Homo sapiens: one gene and its partners. The protein of the gene in region 3 interacts with the protein of the main gene of each other region in a pairwise test. Each region holds a gene or a part of one and is shown on either strand. Other genes may lie near its edges.

Region 1 (7,426 bases), on a different chromosome or scaffold from region 3:
GACTCTATTTCAATTAATCAACCAATCAATCAATTTGTGAAGGGATTAAAAAGTAAGGCTAGGACCGAGCATGATGCCTCATGCCTGTAATCATAGCACTCGCTTTGGGAGGCCGATGCTGGTGGATTGCTTGAGGCCAGGAGTTCGAGACCAGCCTAGCCAACATGGCAAAACCCAGTCTCTACTAAAAGTAGCTGGGTGCGGTGCCATACGCCTGTAATCCCAGTTACTGAGGAGGATGAGACTTGAGAATCACTAGAACCCGGAAGGCAGTGGTTGCAGTGAGCCAAGATCGCGCCACTGCACTCCAGCCTGGGTGACAGAGCAAGACTCTTGTCTCAAAAACAAAAATAAAAAAAGTAAGGCTGGGCCCGGTGGCTCACAAACACTTGTAATCCCAGCATTTTGGGCGTGGGCAACATGCCGAAACCCTGTCTCTACAAAAAACACAAAAGCTAGCCAGCCATACTGGCACACACCTGTAGTCCCAGCTACTCCAGAGGCTGAGGTGGGAGGATGGCTTCAGCTCAGGAGGTGGAAGCTACACTGAGCCATGATGGCACCACTGCACTTCAGCCTGGGTGAAAGGCGAGCCCCTGCCTCAAAAAAAAGTAATGAAATTATTAATTATTGGCCGGGCACTGTGGTTCACACCTGTAAGCCCAGCACTTTGAGAGGCCAAGGTGGGTGGATCCCTTGAGATCAGCCTGGGCAATGTGGCAAAACCCAGTCTCTACCAAAAAATTAGCCAGGCATGGTGGCATGCATCTATGGTCCCAGCTACCCAGGAGGCTGAGGTAGGAGAATCGCTTGAGCCTGGAGGGCAGAGGTTGCAGTGAGCAGAGATCACACCATTCACACCACTGCACTCCAACCTGGGTGACAGAGTGAGATGCCATCTCACCAAAAAACAAAAAAGAAAAAAAGAAAGAAATTATTAATTACACACTTACTTGAACATAATTGATAAAGTCTTCCTTGAAAAGGGTTCTTCTCTGGATTTTGTACTCTAGATCGGAAGCCTTCTTAATGATAGCCCTGAGGAGAAAGCCATTTAAACTTCACTTGAAAACTGCAAAAATTAAACGTTTAAGTTTATTTTGAATATATTTAAAACATGTTTTTCAAAATACGAAATTCCTAGAGTTATCTTTCATAAGAAAGTATTATCGGCCGGACACAGTGGCTCATGCCTGGAATCCCAGCACTTTGGGAGGCTGAGGCGGGTAGATCAAGAGGTCAAGAGACTGAGACCACCCTGGTCAACATGGTAAAACTGCATCTCTACTAAAAATACAAAAATTAGCTGGGCGTGGTGGTGCGTGCCTGTAGTCCCAGCTACTCGGGAGACTGAGGCAGGAAAATTGCTTGAACCTGGAAGGCGGAGGTTGCAGTAAGCCGAGATCGCGCCACTGCCCTCTGGCCTGGCGACAGAGCAAGACTCCATCTCAAAAAAAAAAAGTATTCTCTTACACAATTACTTTTGTGTTCTTAAGGGTTCATTTTTAAACTTTCAGGAAAATCATCTTAATCAACTCCCAAAACCAATGACATTCCCACCAGCAAAGCAAATACAATTAAGAACTTTATACCATTTATGTATGGTGTTTTTTTTGTTTGTTTTTTTCTCGCTCTGTCGCCCAGGCTGGAGTGCAGTGGCATGATCTTGGCTCACTACAACCTCGGCCTCCCGAGTTCAAGCGATTCTCCTGCCTCAGACTCCCGAGTAGCTGGGACTACAGGCGCTCACCACCACGCTCAGCTAATTTTTGTATTTTTAGTAGAGACGGGGTTTCACCATATTGGCCAGGCTGGTCTCGAACTCCTGACCTCGTGATCCACCCACCTCGGCCTCCCAAAGTGCTGGGATTACAGGCGTGAGCCACAGCGCCTGGCTGGTATTAATAAAGACTTCTTTTACTCCAAGTTCAGGTCACTTAAATTTTAATAATAAATTTCTTTCCGAAATTCCTCTTATTTCTGAGTTCTCAACATGTAAATTTTTTTAAAAATCTAAATTGCGTCTGCCTTAAAAGACTTATTACTACGAAGGACTTACGGGAGAAGATTCAGAGTCCTTAGCTAAGGAATGAACATATGACAAATATATATTAGGAGAATTTAATGCAAGATGTGCAAGACAGGTGTCTTTAGTAATGGTAACATTAACCTTAACTGAGCACTTTCTAAGCGTCCACACTGCTTTGTTTTGTGTTTCATTAACGAATGCTTACTTTGAAGCTCTGAGTCACATTACTACATTCAGACGTTGCAAAACAAAGCAACAGTCACAGAAACCATTAAAAACTATTAAACATAATTTTAACACGCTACTGAATGTCTACCATGTGCCAGGCGCTGTAGTTAGGCTCTGGAGTAGCATATGAAACTGATTTCAATGGTCCCCACCTTCAAGTCTAGTTAGGAATTTATCCACTCCCCCTGGGCTCTCACAGCACTCTGTTCCCATCCCTACAGCAGTACAAGGTACTACAATCAACTTACAGTACACTGTTATCAAAATATTTAATTTGTCTGTCTCCCCCACCACACTCTGCCCAATTAGCTCCTAATGAGCAGGAATCCTGGGTTTATCACCTTTACAGCCCTAAGACCCGGCTCCATGAAGGGCTGTCAAAACGTCTGATGGGTAAGTAGACGGACGGATTACCTTGCAACGAATGAAAAATTAATTCTGGACATCACCGAAAACGAGAAATGGGCTTCCACCACGTTAGGAAAAGTAAACACAGGTCGAGCGTCCCCACATCTAGCCCCTGCCACACACTCCCAACCTCCCCTCAGGCCGCCTCAGCTCTTCCCTCTCCCCAACCCTCTCTCACTTAATCTCCGCATGACTGAACAGTCCAATGCGCTCCAGCTGTTCCAATTCCGGGAGCCGATCTTCTATGCGTTCCTGAATTATCTCTGCCATGAGGTCCGAGGTCTACAACCCCGCGGGTAGCTTCTCAACAGCGAACACGAGCAGGAAGCTCCCGGTTTCAGGTTCGGAGACCCAGCCCTACCACCGACGCGTCCGGACGTAACGTGCTCCCTAGGTCCCGCCTTTTCCGCTTCCGCCACCTCCTACTTAGGGGAAGGCCCTTCGGCTTCTACAGCCACCGTCCCCTCCCTGTGGCCGATTGTGGGATTGCAGCGAGAACCCGCCCTGGTCTTGGGCAGGACGACTCTAGCGGACAGGAGTTGAGGGGCGGGGCTAGACGGGAGGGAGGGGTTAAGTGCGCGCGCCGCTAGACTTGGACAGCCATCAGGAAAAGCGCCTCCAGGTGTAGAGAGGTGGGCTGCTCAAGCCTGAAAGGGACACGAGATGCATTTTCTTCAGAATATTGTCTCCCATCCCACGTCCTGACTTCCCAACACCAAGAACAACAACAAAAAAAAAAGCAAAGGAGGAGGATATTGTACAATTAAACATTTTTGAAAGCCGGTCGCGGTGGCTCATGCCTGTAATCCCAGCAGTTTAGGAGGCCGAGGCGGGCAGATCACCTGAAGTCAGGAGTTCGAGACCATCCTGGCTAACATGATGAAACCCCGTTTCTACTAAAAATGCAAAAAAATTAACTGGGCGTGCTGGCACGCGCCTGTAATCCCAGCTACTCGGGAGGCTGAGGCAGGAGAATCGCTTGAACCTGGGAGGCCGAGATCGCGCCATTGCACTCCAGCTTGGGCAACAAGAGTGAAACTCCGTCTCTAAATAAATAAATAAATAAAATAGAATTGTTTATTATTTAAATCAATATCCTGTCTTTGTAAGCAATAGCTTTCAAAATATATGTCCCTAGGTGAATATCAGACACTATAAATTCTTTTTAGAAAAGGAGATTTTTGTATTGAAAAGTTTGAGAATTACCAAAATAAATCACTAAGGTATAGACACCCTCCTTAAACCATTGCCCAAGCAACTTAGCATTTCTAAGAGAAACACCAGGCAACACAGCTTGGAGGCAATATTGCTGGTATAGTTAGTAAACCTCAAATGATAACTACATGGTTCAGTTCTTTTTTAGTTCTGGATATAAAAAAGCCAAAGCAGCAGTTCTTGCTAAATCTGCTTATTTCAACATTCACATTAGCACCTGGATCCTGTGTGTGATTTATGAAAGGAGAATGGGCTCAGCAAAACCATGTTCCACCTCTGTGCCTTGCATTTCTTTCTTTCCTTTCACATTTTACCCACTCATCTCAGAACTGAGACGAGGGTTGGCTTGTGCTACACCATTTCTTGAATCCTTCAGCTGTAAGACATGTCAGAAGTGGAAGGAAATCACGAATGTAAGACAAAGATAGAATTTATTTGTAAAAGTAAAATCTCTGGGGCTGTGTTAACAGTAAGAGTGGAGATGACACTAGATAGTAAACTCCATATGGGCAGGGAATTTTTTCCTTTTTGACTGGCTAGATACTCTACAGCTTATAGCAGTGCCTACCATATAATAAGTACTCAGTTAATAAATGCATGACACTAAGAAAAGGTACTTGCTAAATTTCTTTAGGTACAAGGAAGTCAGCAAGTTATGACAGACTGTAATCATTTCAAAGTAAATTTGATAGAGACCTTCATAAATTAACCATGATTTTTATTTTATTTTATTTTATTTATTTATTTAGAGACAGAGTCTCGCTCTGTCACCAGGCTGGAGTGCAGTGGCGCGATCTCGGCTCACCACAACCTCGACTCCCCTGGTTCAAAGGATTCTCCTGCCTCAGCCGCCCGAGTAGCTGGGACTACAGGCACGTGCCACCACACCCAATTAATTTTTGTGTTTTTCGTACATACAGGTTTTCATCATGTTGGCCAGGATGGTCTCAATCTCCTGACCTCATGATCCACCCGCCTCAGCATCCCAAAGTGCTGGGACTCCAGGCGTGAGCCAACGCGCCCGCCCAATTTTTAAATCAAACTAACTATAAATACGCTCCTCCTTTATATTGTTTTGTTTTGTTTTGTTGTTCTTTTTAAGACCGAGCCTCGCTGGCCAGGCACTGTGGCTCACACCTGTCATCACAGCACTTTGGGAGGCCGAGGCCACGGATAACCTGAGGTCAGGAATTCAAGACCAGCGTGGCCAACATGGAGAAACCCCGTCTCCACTAAAAATACAAAAAAATTAGCTGGGCCTGGTGGCCTCTCTCTGTTGCCTAATGGGGAGTGCAGTGGTGCGCTCTCGGCTCACTGCAACCTCCACCTCCTGGGTTCAAGCGATCCCCCGAGTAGCTGGGATGACAGGCGTGAGCCACCATGCCCGGCCTAATTACGTTTTTGTTTTGTTTTGAGACAGGGTCTTACTATATTACCCAGGCTGGAGTGCAGTGGTGTGACCACAGCTCACTGCAGCCTCAACCTCCTGAGCTCCAGCAATGCTCCCACCCCCGCCTCCCAAGTAGCTGGGACTACATGTGTGCCCCACCGCACCTGGCTAATTTTCCTTTTTTCTTTTTTGTAGAGACAGGGGTCTCACTATGTTGCCGAGGATGGTGTTTTTGTTTTTGTAAATAGAGACAGGGTCTCACTGTATTGTCACCATGGTCTTGAACTCCTGGCCTCAAGTGATCATCTTGTTTCCCCTTCTCAAAATTCTGGGATTACAGGCATAAGCCAGCACGCCCAGCGATCCTCCCTTATTTTGAAATTTAGCTTTTTTTTTTTTGAGATGGAGTTTTGCTCTTGTTGCCCAGGCTGGAGTGTAGTGGCGTGATCTTGGCTCACTGCAACCTCAGCCTCCCAGATTCTAGTGATTCTCCTGCCTCAGCCTCCCGAGTAGCTGGGATTACAGGCGCCCACCACCACGACCAGCTAATTATTGTCTTTTTAGTAGAGACGGAGTTTCACTATGTTGGCTAAGCTGGTCTCGAACTCCTAACCTCAGGTGATCCGCCCACCTCGGCCTCCCAAAGTGCTGGGATTACAGGCATGAGCCACCACGCCTGGCCAAAATTTAGCGTTTATGTATATATTCTTGTTGTTGTTGTTGTTGTTGTTGTTGAGACGGAGTGTCAGTTTGTTGCCCAGGCTGGAGGGCAGTGGCATGATCTCGGCTCACTGCAACCCCCGCCTTCCCGTTTAAACGATTCTCCTGCCTCAGCCACCTGAGTAGCTGGGACTACAGGCGCACGCCACCACGCCCAGCTAATTTTTGTATTTTTGGTAGAGACGGGGTTTCACCATGTTGGCCAGGCTGGTCTGGAACTCCTGACCTTGTGATCGATCCACCCGCCTCCACCTCCCAAAGTGCTGGGATGTGAGCCACCCCGCCCTGCCTAGCTTTTATATTTACCTTCAAGAATTATTATGATGGGCCAGGCGCAGTGGCTCACATCTGTAATCCCAGCACTTTGGGAGGCCGAGGTGGGTGGATCACAAGGTCAGGAGTTCGAGACCAGCCTGGCCAACATGGTGAAACCTCCGTCTCTACCAAAAATACAAAAATTAGCCGGGCATGGTGGTGCGTGCCTGTAGTCCCAGCTACTCGGGAGGCTGAGGCAGGAGAATCGCTTGAACCCGGGAGATGGAGGTTGCAGTGAGCCAAGATCACGCCACTGCACTCCAGCCTGGGTGACAGACCGACACTCTGTCCCAAAAAAGAAAGAATTATTATGATGTTTTGGAGGCCAAGGCAGGTGGATCACCTGAGGTCAGGAGTTCACAACCAGCATGGCCAACATGGTGAAATACCCCCCCACTAAAAATACAAAAATTAGCTAGACATGGTGGCGGGAATCCCAGCTACTCTGGAGGCTGAGGCAGGAAAATTGCTAGAACCTGGGTGGCGGAAGTTGTAGTGAGCCATGATCACACCACTACACTCCAGCCTGGGAGACAGAGCGAGACTCCGTCTCAAAAAAAAAAAAAAATACTTGGGAGGCTAAAGCACAAGAATCGCTTGAACCCGGGAGGCAGAGACTGCAGTGAGTCGAGATCGTGCCACTACACTCCAGCCTGGGCAACAGAATGAGAATCTGTCTCAAAAAAAAAAAGAATTATTATGACAGAAATGACAAAGCCTTCTTTTCACTTCTGCATCTCATAATAATAGCTGTCATTGGCCCGGCGCAGTGGCTCACGCCTGTAATCCCAGCACTTTGGGAGGCCAAGGTTGGCAGATCACAATGTCAGAAGTTCAAGACCAGCATGGCCAGCATGGTGAAACCCCATGACTCTGTCTCAAAAAAAAAAAAAAAAGCTGTCATTATGTAGGGCTTATTGTGTGCCCAGCTACTATGTGCACTGTTCTAAGTCCTTTATGTTTTTTTGTTTTTTTTTTTGTGAGCCGAAGTTTCGCTCTTGTTGCCCAGGCTGGAGCACAATGGTATGATCTCAGCTCACTGCAACCTCGGCCTCCCAGGTTCAAGTGATTCTCCTGCCTCAGCCTCCTGAGTAGCTGAGACTACAGGCGCCCGCCACCAC
Region 2 (7,024 bases), on a different chromosome or scaffold from region 3:
CCTGTAATCCCAGCACTTTGGGAGGCCAAAGTGGGTGGATCACCTGAGGTCAGGAGTTTGAGACCAACCTGGCCAACATGGTGAAACCCAGTCTTTACTAAAAATACAAAAATTATCCAGGCATGGTGGCATGTGCTTGTAATCCCAGTTACTCAGGAGGGTGAGGCAGGAGGATTGCTTGAACATAGGGGGTGGAGGATGCAGCGAGCCAAGATCGCACCACTGCACTCCAGCCTGGGTGACAGAGCGAGACTCCGTCTCAAAAAAGAAAAAAAAAGGAATTCAACATATAAATTTTGTGGGGACATAAAATTTCAGTCCATAACAAAGTCAAAATTAATAAAGTGTGGTAGCCACAGGAAAAGACAGGTATAAAAACTATTTCAAAGACAGAAGTAAAAGGATAAAACAATGGATTGGATTATAGGCTAAAATAAGGGTGAGGTCCAAAATGACAGTAAGAGAATAGTGTTATCAATACCTAAGTGAAGAAATCAAGGAGAGCTGGCTCAGTTTTACCCAGGGTAACTATGAACTGTCAATGAGCTGAAAAGATGTCCAACAGACTATTAGAAATACCATGACCGGCCGGGCGTGGTGGCTCACGCCTGTAATGCCAGCACTTTGGGAGGCCGAGACGGGCGGATCACGAGGTCAGGAGATCGAGACCATCGTGGCTAACATGGTGAAACCCCGTCTCTACTAAAAATACAAAAAAAATTAGCCGGGTGTAGTGGCAGGCGCCTGTAGTCCCAGCTACTCGGGAGGCTGAGGCAGGAGAATGGCATGAACCTGGGAGGCGGAGCTTGCAGTGAGCTGAGATCGCACCACTGCACTCCAGCCTGGGCGACAATGTGAGACTCTGTCTCAAAAAAAAAAAAGAAATACCATGACCAAGGTTTCAGTGATAGGATGAGAAAAAAGAGATATACCTGGTAGCCATTTGTCTCAAAAGTTAAGAGGTGAAATTTGTAAAAGTTAATAAAATCACCAGATGAGTATGAAGAGGCTGAAGGCCAAAGTTGAACCTCTCTGAAGCCCAAGGGAACGTGTATACTCAAAAGTCAAAAAGTCAAAACCAACCCTAAGCTGAAACAGATGTTAGAATTAGAAAACAAGGACGTTAAAAATTATAACTGTAGTCTATATATTCCAAAGGTAGAATTATGAAAGATATTTTTATCAATACAAATTAAATTTCTTGAGATGAAATCTACTACTAAAATATGTGAGATGAAAATTATACCAGAAGATTAACTGAAGAGTAGATACCAAAGGAAAGATTAATAACCTTGAAGATACAGCAATAGAAACTATTCAAAACACAAAGAAAAAAATAATTTAAAAAATAAAGAGAGCATCAATAAGCTGTGAGACAGCTTCAACCACCCAAACACATATGTAACTAGAGTCCTCAAATGAGAAGAGAGAAGTGGGGCAGAAAATATGTGTGAAGAACAAATGGCCAAAAATGTTCCAAAGTTGATGAAAACTACAAACCCCATGCATCCAAGGAACTCTATGAACCCCAATACAAGAAACATGAAGAAAACCATATTAAGATGCATCACAATCAAACGCACAAGAGCAGCCACAGGAAAAAGGACACACTATGTAGAAAGGGAAAAAGATAAGGATAAAGGCAGATTTCTCATCAGAAACAATGCAAGTGAGAAGACAGTGGTGCAACATTTTTTAAATACCAGAAGGAAAAAACAACTATCAAGCTAGAAATCTATAACCAAGAAAAATATACAAATATTTGTATATTCCAGAGGTATGAATCAATCTCAGGGGTATGATGATGGATATGTTTACCATTTTTTTGTGTTTTTTTTTTGGACAGGGTCTCACTCTGTCGCCCAGGCTAGAGTGCAGTGGCATGATCACAGCTCGCTACAGCCTCAACTTCCCAAGCTCAGATGATCCCACTTCAGCTTCCCAAGTAGCTGGGACTACAGGCACATGCCACCAGTCCTGGCTAATTTTTGCATTTTTTTGTAGAGATGAGGTTTCATCATGTTGGCCAGACCAGTCTCGAACTCCTGAGCTCAAGCAATCAGTGGGCCTCAGCCTCCTAAAGTTCTAGGAGCGCAGGCGTGAGCCACCGCACCCAGCCACACTCTCTTGACTGTGATGATAGCTTCACCGGCTTATATACATCAAAACTAATCAAACTGTATACTTTATGTACAACTTATCATATATCACTATATTGCTAATAAAGCTGTTTTTAAAAAGTCAGTATCATATATATAGAAACAAACAAGAGAAGACAGTTCTCAATTAGTACTAAAGTGATAGATCAAATGTAAAGTGTGAAGTCTGAATGGATCCTGACTTTAAAAAAAAGCTAGCCTTTAAGAAAATAATGAAATTTTGAATGCAAATTGTACATTAGATGATACCATGGAATCACTGCTAATTGGCTTAGGTAGGATAATGGTAGTTTGGTTACATAGGAGAATATCCTCATTCTTAGATTCATGCTGAAGCATTAGGGTTAAAGTGTCATGTCAGCAATTTACTTTCAAATGATTCAAGCGGGATAGGTATATATGTGGAAGAAAAAAAGTCAATGTGGCAAAATATTAACAACTTGTTTCTAAGGAAAGAGTATATGGATGTCAGTTATATTATTCTTTCAATACTTTCTGCTTCATATTTTTCATAATAAAACAAGGGGAAAAAGATTAGCATATCTATATGGAAAAAATATCACAAACAGATAAAATACAAATAAGAAAAACACTCTAACACATGACAAAAATAGAGCTACTTTGTTTTATATGTAAAATAACTTTACAATCTGGAAGAAAAACATGAATAATTTTTTAAAGTAGGCAAAAATCACAAAATGACAACAGAAAATATGTAAATTACCCCCCAGAAAACCTCTAAAAATATACCCAACTTGTCATAATTAGAGAAATGCAAAACAAAATGATGTGATACCATTTTTCACCTGTTGGATAAGTTTTTTCTTTGATAAAAACTACTCTTGGTAAGAAATAACTGATGAAAACATATGCTCTCATATACTGTCAAATTGTATATTAGGTCGACCTTTTGGATGGTAATTTGGCAAAAAAAAATTTGAACTTTTATTTAGAATTTAAATTTAAAACATGCATACTCTTTGACCTAGCAATTCCATTTCTAAGAATATATACTACACATGAGGGGCCAGCCAACTTTGTCTTAAAGAGTCAGGCAGTAAATTATTTTCAGCTTTGTGAGCCATTGTGAAATGGTGTTACAACCATTTCATTCATCTACTCTAGTTTGAAAGCAGCCATAGACAACATACAAACAAATGGGTATGGCTGTGTTCCAATACAATTTTATTTACAAACAAGGTGCCCAACTATGGGCCATAGCAATCCCTACTATGTATTAAATTCTGAACAACACAAAGATATAGTTTATTACAGCACTACTTGTAACAGCCAAAAAACTGCAAATAACTATGTATTAATAAGGCACTTCATTCATAACTAATTATATATTAATAGGGCACTTAATTCATAACTAAATGTACATTGTAGGACACTTGATAATTCACAGTAAATCAACACAATGAAATGTGCAAATGTTTAAAAAAAGGTGACATTTATCTAAAATTATAGGAAAAAATCTCCAGGATAAGTTATTAAGTGGAAAAAAAATGCTGAGCATTATCTATAGGATACAGTATAAGAGAAGAAAAAATGATACATATGCATTAATTTTTCTGATTTTCTGTATGGATACACACGAAACAGTACTTACACCTGGAGAGTTGGACTACTGGGTCGGAGTTGAAGAAAATTTTACTTTTAATTTTATAACCTTTCCCATTTTTTACCATGAGCATGTAACTTTTGTAACTACTTTTATAATAAAATGAAATAAATGAAGTGGCACAGTGAAATTTAATATATGCTATGTGAATGAATAATAAACTAGGTAAGTTTCATCAAATGGGCATATGGGAATAAAAGCCAGTTCTAAAGCAATTACAAAGTAATGCTGCTGATAAAAGTGGACTGTGTAAAGGTAAACAGTGTCACAGCAACCATTACACATTGCAGGTTGACTCTCCAATATTCTTTCCCGTAGATCCGAGGTCAAGTTTCAAACTGTCTAAACTAATACATGGTAATGGCATCCTTCTGCCAAATGACTGGTTCAGGAGCTGCCAGCCCTAAGTTAAAGTTCTGGAAATGCTGTGGAAAATCTGAAAATGTAATGGGGAATAAACAAGAGATTAATGAAAGCATTGTATCTAATCAGCAAACTTCTGTGACTCTCCATATCACCAAGCTAAGTGACAGCTGGGGAAAGGCACAAACAGACCACAACAATGGATTTATCCAGAAATACAACAAGAGGCTGAAAAAAACAGTATTAGGCATCAGTGAAATTCCTAATTATAAATAAGTTTGAGAATGGGTACAGACAAACCTAGAGAGAGACCTTATGAAATGAGGAAACAAGAAAGCATGTCTATGTACTTGGAGGAAAAGGGAGGGAGTCAAAGGACCAGGTGATGAGCATTATGTAACAGTATGTTTGTTAGAACAAGAATCACAGAGGAGGTTAAATCAACCAGAGACTAGTTCTGCTGGTGAAATCTCAGCAAGAGAATCACTCCTACTACTAAGATCCTAGAAAAACTGAAGTAGAGTGCTGATGTTACTGAAGCTGAAGAAGTTAAGAACAATGAGGCCATGTTGGATGGGCCAACATGAATGTGAATGAAGATAAAGTTTTCAAAGGACTCAGCTCTCTTTATTTCATCTTTCTCTGTGGCAAAGTTAAAGAAAGGCCAGTATAATTAGATGACCTGATGTCAAAAGAGAATAAGTTATCTATTGATGGTGATAATGTTTAAAATTTTCTCTGAGTTGGGAAGGCCTAGGTTCCTATCCTGATAAGTTCACTTCTTAGATGTATACCATTGAAGTTACAAGTTACTTAACTTCTCTAGACAACATTTGATCAATAAAAGTACCTACTTCAGAAGATTATTGTAAAGATTACTTGAGATGATGCATATAAAGCGTTAAACAGTGCCTGGCACACGATTGATAATAAGTATTAGTTACTCTTACCAAAAATGGTCAAGTTGTAGCAGTACAGGTCAAGTCCTATGCCAACTGCCCCTTTTTGCCTAGTGGGTTACAAGAGCCAAAGAGATAGAAAAAAGTATAGATGACTGTAGGAGAAGCCCTGTATCTGGGGAAAGAAAGCTTTTAGTTAAGGTGAAACACCTGAATAAGCGCTTGGCAAATATAAAATAATTTGCACCCAAAGGGGCAGAAATCCATGAGTATAATGGAATGATTATTGCCCTAAAAACTCTCAAACCTAAATAATGCATCTCTCTTTAAATAACTTCTGACAGTAGTGCGTGGAAAAAGTAGAGTTAAAACATAAATAAAACCAAGCTGGGAGAAAATCAATCAACCAAATACAAAGGTGATACTGGTTCACTGGTTAAGAAACTAGCATTAGTGTCTATTACTGAGGACGAATGAAAAGAAACTAGCCAGAAAACTTGGCAAAGTTTGTTTCTAAATTTATAGATGCAAATTTACCGATTATGACCTCTTTCTCCAATGTAACAAGGGGAGTTATCCGTATCTTGATAACCTTAAGTGCTATCAAAAAGCAGGTTTCACTAAGTGTCAAAATGCAAAAATTGGTAACAAGTTAATTATTTTACATTTCTGAGGCTTCTTTTCTATTCAAAGTAATGCATTTTCATTGTAGAAAACTAGAATGAAAAAGTATACAGTTGTAAGGGGAAGCAATCTCATTACACAAAAATAAAAAAAACATTTTGCATGGACTTTCAGTCTTTTGACTGCATTTTTCATTATATCATAAGGTTATATTTTCTATACAATGTATGTCTATTTTATCACATAATACATTTTTTATATCTATTTTATCACATAATACTACGTCATAAGCACTCTATCTGCTTTACTATTAACAGTTACTAAACTAAGGGTGACGACTTTCTCTATAAAGGCCTTTACGGTTTCAGTCAACTTATTTTAGTAATAAATACGCTCCTTATGTAATTTCACAAGTTTAGGGTCAACTTTTAGGCCCCGGACCATGAGCAGCTTTTCAGAACTTCATGTGCAGCCCTAGAAGCTAATGTAAAGGGAAAAACTGCCATTATATATTTGATTTATCCAATGAGTTATGCTACTTTGAAAGTAAATTTCACATATACAAAAAGGACCAATAATATTAAAAATTGTATTCCTGTTTCTATACATGATGCTAATTTTTCCATTCTACCTTTGGTCAGGTGGTCACCTCAAGATGATCTGATGTGATTTATTTTTCCATGTACAAGCTGTAGAGTCACAACGTGACATTTTGTAGAGGGCCTATAGCTGTAGATTTTCTTCTCTGTACAAATAAGTCTGAAACTAAACTTAATTACCTTCTAAAATAACATACACAATTTTATCAAACAGGTGATGAAATAGTAATACATGTACACTTTAACATTTCTCATTCTTCTATTTCCTTTTCAATGCTTTAAGTATTTTAAAATTAGGCTTAGGCACAGTGGCTCATGACTGTAATCCCAGTACTTTGGGAGGCTGAGGCAGGAGGATCAGTTGACCCCCAGAGTTCAAGACCAGGCTGGGCAACATGGTGAGACCCCATCTCTACAAAAAAAATAAATAAATAAATAAAGCCAGGTGTGGTGGTGTGCACCTGTGGTCCCAGCTACTTGGGAGGCTGAGGCAGGGGGATTGCTTGAGCCCACGAGGTTGAGGCTGCAATGAGCCATGATTGCACCACTGCACTCCAGCCTGGACAAGAGAGAGAGAGAGACCCCATCTCAAATAAACAAACAAACAAACAAACAAACATTTAAAAATTAAGATGTGGCAGGCTGGGCACAGTGGCTAATGCCTGTAAGCCCAACACTTTGGGAGGTCAAGGCAAGAGGATGGCTTCACGCCAGTAGTTCTAGACCAGCGTAGTAGGCAACTAGCCTTGTCTCAAA
Region 3 (7,024 bases):
TCCTCCCTCTCCACGGCCAGGGTTCAGTGCCTCCTCGTGAGTTCAGGGCATCTGAAATGCCCTCCCCACAGCCCTCTCCACACTCCACAAGGCTGACAGGGATCTTTCCAGAAAAGTTTTTGTTGTTTTTTGTTGTTTTGAAAGCTGGAATACGGCCGGACGCAGTGGCTCACGCCTGTAATCCCAGCACTTTGGGAGGCCGAGGCGGGCGGATCACGAAGTCAGGATATTGAGACCATCCTGGCCAATGTGGTGAAACCCCATCTCTACTAAACTACAAAAAACTAGCCGGGTGTGGCAGCGCGCGCCTGTAGTCCCAGCTACTCAGGAGGCTAAGGCAGGGTAATCGCTTGAACCCAAGAGGTGGAGGTTGCAGTGAGCCGTGATCGTGCCACTGCACTCCAGCCTGGTGACAGAGCAAGACTCCATCTAAAATATATATATATATTTTTTCTTTTGCCATGTTGCCCAGGCTGGTCTCGAACTCTCCTGGCCTCAAGCGCTCCTCCTGCCGTAGCCTCCCAAAGTGCAAGGGTTACAGGCATGAGCCCCTGAGCCCAGCTCCAGAAGACAGGTCTAACCTCATCCTCACCTGCCCAAAGTCCTGTGTGCCCTGACTCCCATTGTTCCTGGAACATTCTCTGCCCTTTCACACCTCAGGCTTCTGCTAGTGCTGGTTCCTTCCAATCCGTGTCCAGGGTCCAGCGGCCCTACCTAGCCAGGCATGGGGGCTGTGCCCCTCGTGCTCCTAGTCCGGCTGCTAACAGCAGTGTCCAGTTTCTGGGAGAGCTGCAGGTGAGCGAGCACCAGGTGGGGAGGCCGTGAGGGTGGGTGTCCCAAGCCCAGTGGAGGATCACAGAGCCACTCAGTGTCGCTGACCACCAGGGAGGGATGGGGCAGTGTGTCACTGATGTGAGGCTCCTTAAGCATCAGTCTGTGAAGGGCCACCAGTGCCCCACGCCCCCCAGGGAAGCGAGGACAGCCCCACCCGCTGTCTAGCCTCACTCGGGGCACTCAGGGTCCTCGCCAGTGGGGCTGGGTTGGGGGAATGCACAAGATGGGGCCTCAGGAGGAAGATCTGCAGGAGACACATGCTTTCTTTGCACGAGCAGTGGCTTGCTTGGGGGAGAGCAGGCTGGGCCCAGAGCGGCCCTTCCCCACCCCATCTCCTTGGTCCTGTGCCGTTTCTGCCCTGGTGTCTGGTCTGGGGTGTGCACCCCACTTCTGCCACCCATTTTGCACCTGCACAGGCAGCTGGCTCCCCAGTTCCCAACAGGCCACCCAGCCAGGCCCCTGGCCCAGCTCCCCACCCATCTCCACCCACCACAGGGCCTCCTCAGTCCCCCACACTCCCAGACCTCAGGTGGTGCCTCCAGAGCGAGCTGTGTCCACACAGGGCTCTACTGGAATGCCTGGCTCTTTGGAGAGGCTGAGGCTGACTGAATGGGCTCTGGGCAGCAGCTGGCACGGATGCCATCCTGGTTGGGGCTCACCTCCAAGAGAAGCGTGTCCGGCAGGTACCGGTCCTTCCAGTGGTCGAGGAAGACCATGTCCAGTGTGTCCACATCATACTTCTTCTTCAGCTGGGGGATGATGTCCTGGGACGCTCCAACCACAAGGGTGACCTGGAACAGCGCCTGTCAGTGCCCACGTCCTCACAGACAGGAGGCCATCCCTACACACCTATACAACAGCGCCTGTCAGTGCCCACGCCCACACAGACAGGAGGCCATCTTTACACACCCATACAAGCATTCATCAGTTTTCTTTAGGGTTCTGGGATGACAAGGCCCCACTCTGTCCCTGCCCCTCCTGGTGCCACCTTGGCAGTTTACCCAGAGCTGTGAGACCCTCACTGAGCTGCTGGGGGGGTCTTTCCTCAGCCCCAGGCTGGGAAGCACTGAGGGGCCTGGTGATAGTGGGTTTTCAGTGAACGTGGTGTGAACACCTGGTGGGGAGGACAAAGTGCGCATGCCCTCCCTGCCCACAGCCGGCCCTTTTTCCAGGTCTGACAACGGGTCAGGCATGCACACCTTGTCCTTCACGCCAGCGAAATCCACCATCCGCTGGGTGATGGCGGCACAGTCGGGGTTGATCTCGATGGTGATGAGCCTCGCCCCTGGTGACAGCAGGCGGGCCATGCGCACAGCTGAGTAGCCACAGTAGGCCCCCAGCTCCAGCAGCACGGAGGGCTGGTGCTCCTGAATCACGGCGTCCACGATCTTGCCTGTGCAGGGTTGGGGACGGAGGAGAGGTGAGCACAGGTGGAGAGAGGGGAACTTGGATCCCCAGGCACGGCCCCCCACCTCTCCCAAAGAGCAGGAGCCCCTCCCAAATGCCTGGCCGCTGGCCCTCCTCTGCCCACCCTCCCTACCCGCTGGAGGGGTATTTCACCTCCCTGGTGTCCCCAGCCCCCAGGACCTGGTCCCCACTGTGAGCGCGCTTGGAGCTCCCATGGTCCCTTAGCCTCTATGCTCACGCTGGTCCCTATCTTTTCCACCCTTCCTGGCTGGCCCCAGTGTGTCCTAACACAGAGCTGCCCTCTCTGAATCACCGAACCGCCCACCTTGGGGCCCTGGGGCGGCACTAGTTCCCTGAGTCACTCCGTGAGCCCGGTAACACATCCTGTGCCCCAGGCTGAAGTTCAAGCGGGAGGCGGGCCCAGGAGAACCTGTCTGACTGGTCCCCAGGCAGGTCCCATGGTGGCCAGAACAGAGTTCAAGGGGAACTGCACCACCGTCAGACCCTGTGAGTGTGGGGGCCTGTTGTCCTGGGGCAGCAGGCAGCAGGGCCTGCAGGGGTCATCAGGGACCCTGGCACCCTGGGACTCCAGAGGAGCCCCCCAGCCCTATCTGGGCATATCCCAGGGTTCCCAGCCCCCTGGAAATGGGGTGATAACAGCTTCTCCTGTAAGGGCTTTGATGCCTGGTCCTGGGTCCCTGTCCCAGAGCTGAGCACCTGCTGGCCCGGACCCCACCTTTCTTGTCGCCCACGTTCATGGCCCACTCCTTCTGCTCGCAGTAGGTGTCAATGGCCTCCAGCACGCTCTGTGCGTTCCCGGGCTCCGCATGCTGCAGCACGTGGTTCAGGATGCGCTGCTCCTTGGTGTCACCCATGAGCAGGTTGTGGATGGGCTGCAGGATGAACTCGTTCCAGCCGATAAGGCACAGGCCCCAGCCCCAGTGCCTCAGAAGCAGCAGCAGCACCACCAGCAGCACCAGGCCCAGCAACACAGCTGCCAACAGCAGAGGCGGGGCCTCCGGCATCTGCAGGGCGGGAGGGGAGGGGCGCCAGTGCTCTGTGCTCCTCCTGCAGCACCCACACGCCCCTTTGCTTGGAGTGCCACCATCGCCCCCTTGTGTTTGCAGAGGGGCAAGGTTCAGAAATGCCAGCCTTGTGCCTCAGTTGCCTGACGTGTCAGCGCCAGGGAGCCAGCCTTCTCGTGCCCTCTGGTGCCCTCGGGTAGACAGAGCAGGTGTGTGCCTCTGGCAGTCCTGTGTGGAGCCTGCAGGGTCACACTCCCTGGCCCTGGGTGCTTCCCCAGGCAGCCCAGGGATCCTCTAAAACCACACAAAATACAGAAGCAGACACGGACTCAGGCTGTTGTCTCCCAGCTGGCTTAGAGGACACCCAGGGGTAGGGAAGCCCCATGGCCCGGAGTTGGGGGTAGTCACGGGTGGCCAAAGGAGAGGCTGTATGGTGCAGCCCCTTGGCCTCATGTGGTGAGCCCGTGCTGGTCACCCATGCTCTGGACGCCCCAGGGATTCATGTGGCCTTTTCATTGAGTGTCCAAGTAAGGACACTGGCAGTCCCCAGGCCAGGCACACCAGGACAGACCCACTCACCACTCCCCTTGGGAACAGCAACGTGGCATGTCCCAGATGAGAAAGGCCAGCCCTGCCGCCCACAACAGTGTACCTCGTGGGGCACAGTGATGGCAAGTGACCCCACTTGAAACCTGTTTGAAATCCTCCTGGTGTGACCCTCCAGGCAGGTAGCCTGGGAACCAGACAGAAGCCTGGTGAGGGGACCCAGCAGGCAGAGAGCAGAGCACAGGAGGCCTGAGGCAGAAGCCCAGGGGTTCAGGTCACAGACCCTAAAACGGGAAGGACACAAGGAAACTTCTTCTAGGGCCCCTGTGCTCACTCAGAGGTCTTTCTGGGATGGGGCCCTGGGCTCCCAGTGGCATAGGAGATCCCACTCTCTGCTGGACGCTCCATTTTAGAAAGGCACACCCAGGCAAGGAGGCAGGCCTAGGGCCACAGAGGGGACACCCCTGGAGGCCAGCCTCAGGGCACCAGAGGACAGAGCAGAAGAGAACAGGGAAGCAGAGGCTCCGCCCTAGGGGGAGGTCATGCGGACACCAGGCTTCTAGGGGATTTCAGGCCATGTGGCCTATTTACACAGGCAGAGTGGACATGTGCTCAGCAGACCTGTGCCCATGCACCGGGCCGGAATCTGTACCCACCCTGGCACTGCCCCGGCTTCCGTTGGCCAACTCACCTTCAAAGCACCTCTGAGCAGGCTCCAGCCCTCTGGCTGCGGGAGGGGTCTGGGGTCTCCTCTGAGCTCGGCAGCAAAGCAGATGTTATTTCTGTGGAAATCAATTTTGCCTTTGGATAATCATCAACATAAACCCTAACCTGGCGATGACCAAGGTCCAGATACCTGAGCCCCTTCCCCGGATAGGGCCAGCCTGGCCTGAGCCTTCCCTAGCAGGGCGAGGGCAGTGCTTCGCCTTTCCGGCCTCAGAAGAGACAGCAGAAGGCCTCAGAGAGGCCAAGGGACATCCCTACTAGTGTCCCCCAGCCAGGGACCCCAGGGGCAGTCTCCTGGTCCCTGTCCACACTGCCCTGTGGGCTATGTGTGTGTGCACCTGCACCTTGTGAACCACAAGAGGAGGGAACCACTCTGCTCAAGTTGTATTTCCCCTGAAGAGTCCTTAGTACCTTGGAAATGATGTGTAAGACCAAGGGCTAGTTTACCAAGAACATACACAAACCAGTAAGAAAAAGATGATGAGACAGATAGGTCACAGTGGCCAACATGCAGCTCACAGGAAAAGGCCAAAGGCCAGAGCCCCGAGCAGGTGATGGAACCCGGTGCAGGGCTCAGTGACAGTGGGGGTGCCCCTGTCCACAGCTGCAGGAGTGGGAATCGTGCTGCCTTCTGCTGCTACCCTTGGGAAGGGTCCCAGGCCTGCAGGGAAACCCGTGGCCCACTGTGTTTCCCAGCGGGGCAGGACGTGCCATGACCCACAGGGCTCGTGGGGAAAAAACAAGAGATGGTGCTTCCCTAAGGACAGTGTCCTTATTCTGGCAGGAAGATGACAGGGGGAACCATGGTGGAGAGGGACCATGCAGACCTGAAGCAGCCAGAACTTTCCACCTTGCTCCTTTCTTCATGGTGGGGATTTCCTATGACACAGCCTGTTGCTTTGTTTACTATTATTTATCTGCTATGGTTTATCTATAATGACTACTAGTATTTGTGTGGTCAGATAATGGGCCATTTTGTTTACTCTCCATATTTAAAAAACAGTGTTAGAAATATATACCCCAAATTAAAAGGGCTATTCTGAAACAGCAAATTACTTGGTAGACCTTGGAGTCCCAAATTATAAATCCAAATCTGCGTTAATACTTGAATTGTGTAAGAATTTGGCTTTTGAATCTCTAATCTCTAGGTCTGTCTGTTCATAAATCTGCAGGCAGTGTCTCCCAGGGCCTAGTGGGAGGCAGCAGAGGGGAGGAGGCCACAGCAGGGAGGGGCCCGAAGCCCCCTTCCTTTGCCTGGCAGGAGGGACCGGCCCACTCCACTCTGCAGGCTGGGCCTGGCTGGTGCAAGGAGGCACCCAGTGCCCGCCTGTCCCACCTGCCCGCGGCTCTGTGGCCAACTGGGGTCCAATGGCCAAGAGCCATGGGGGCTGGGGAAGTGCTCAAGGCCAAAGGCTCTGCGGCCAACTGGGCCCCAACGGCCAAGAGCCATGGGGGATGGGGAAGTGCTCAAGGCCAAAGGCTCAAAGGCCAACACGCCCAGGCCACAATGCAGTGCCTGGGGGCTACAGTGCCCACGGCCACCTCACAAGGCCCTCCAGCAACCGCCAGAGGAGAAGAGCGCTGGGATTCCCTTGTGAGTGTGAACTGAAGCCCTGAGCAGAGGGACTGGCTGCCCCGGGCCACCAACAGAGCCCTGGCCCCTGCCCACCCCACCTCCCGACAGCTAACCACCTCCGCTCCGCCCCGCCCCAGCCCCGTAGGGCCTCCCCGCCCACCCTCCTCTCTGCTCGCTGGTGTGGGATGGGAGGCCCCAGAAGGGGAGGCCCCGCCCACTGGGCCGGGAGGGACGCGGGACCACATCCAATTGACTTTGGGACCACGCCCACCCAGCCACGGAGGAGGGTGGGATCACGCCCACCTGGCCATCCGAGGGCTGACCCTGCGCTGTCACCGGCCACTGCCCAGTTTCGCAGGACGAAAGAGCAGGCAAGTGAGAAAATGGAGGGCGGGTCCTGAAAAGCCGAGAATCAGGCCTCCCTTTAAAGAAAGCCACGTAGAAACCCACCTGTGCTACTCAAAGCTGCTCGGATGTTCCCAGCCCTGGGATTTTGCCCCGTCAGCCCTCCATGGGGAAAAGGAACAGCTCCTTTAGTTTGGGGTCCCAGGACTCGAGAGTGGGCACGCCAGCTCAGTGTCCGACTCGGGACCCCCTATGATCCGATCGCCCTACTTTGGCTGTGTGGTCTGGGGAGCGTCAAGAGTCCCCCCTTACCTTACAGAGAGGCAAAAAGACAGTTTTGAATGCCCCTGTGGTGGGGGGCGGTGGGGTGCAGGCCGGAGGACCGAGGGGAATTCTCTCTGCTTTTGTGTATGTTTGAAATGTGCTTTTTTTTTGTTTTTTTGAAACAGGGTCTCACTCTGTCGCTCAGCCTGGAGTGCAGTGGCGCGGTCGCAGCTCACTGCAGTCTCGACCTCCTGGGCTCAAGGGATCCTCCTGCCTCAGCCCCCCCAAGTAGCTGGGACGA

Evidence for each region. The genes of interacting proteins can lie anywhere in the genome.
Region 1: the proteins of COMT (region 3) and UTP6 interact in binary tests that used the Homo sapiens proteins (3 or more experiments, as listed by UniProt).
Region 2: the proteins of COMT (region 3) and HIBADH interact in binary tests that used the Homo sapiens proteins (3 or more experiments, as listed by UniProt).

The regions. Positions count from the first base shown.
Region 1 is NC_000017.11:31,898,693-31,906,118, forward strand, and holds the start of UTP6 (U3 small nucleolar RNA-associated protein 6 homolog), read right to left. Parts: upstream 3,017-7,426; 5' UTR 2,936-3,016; coding exon 2,844-2,935; intron 1,039-2,843; coding exon 954-1,038; intron 1-953. UniProt on the Homo sapiens protein: Part of the small subunit (SSU) processome, first precursor of the small eukaryotic ribosomal subunit.
Region 2 is NC_000007.14:27,652,868-27,659,891, forward strand, and holds part of HIBADH (3-hydroxyisobutyrate dehydrogenase, mitochondrial isoform 1 precursor), read right to left. Parts: intron 3,900-7,024; exon of another isoform or gene 3,765-3,899; intron 1-3,764.
Region 3 is NC_000022.11:19,958,769-19,965,792, reverse strand, and holds part of COMT (catechol O-methyltransferase), read right to left. Parts: intron 4,595-7,024; 5' UTR 4,504-4,594; intron 3,561-4,503; exon of another isoform or gene 3,267-3,560; coding exon 2,978-3,266; intron 2,228-2,977; coding exon 2,034-2,227; exon of another isoform or gene 1,959-2,033; intron 1,626-1,958; coding exon 1,494-1,625; intron 660-1,493; exon of another isoform or gene 1-659. UniProt on the Homo sapiens protein: Catalyzes the O-methylation, and thereby the inactivation, of catecholamine neurotransmitters and catechol hormones. Also shortens the biological half-lives of certain neuroactive drugs, like L-DOPA, alpha-methyl DOPA and isoproterenol.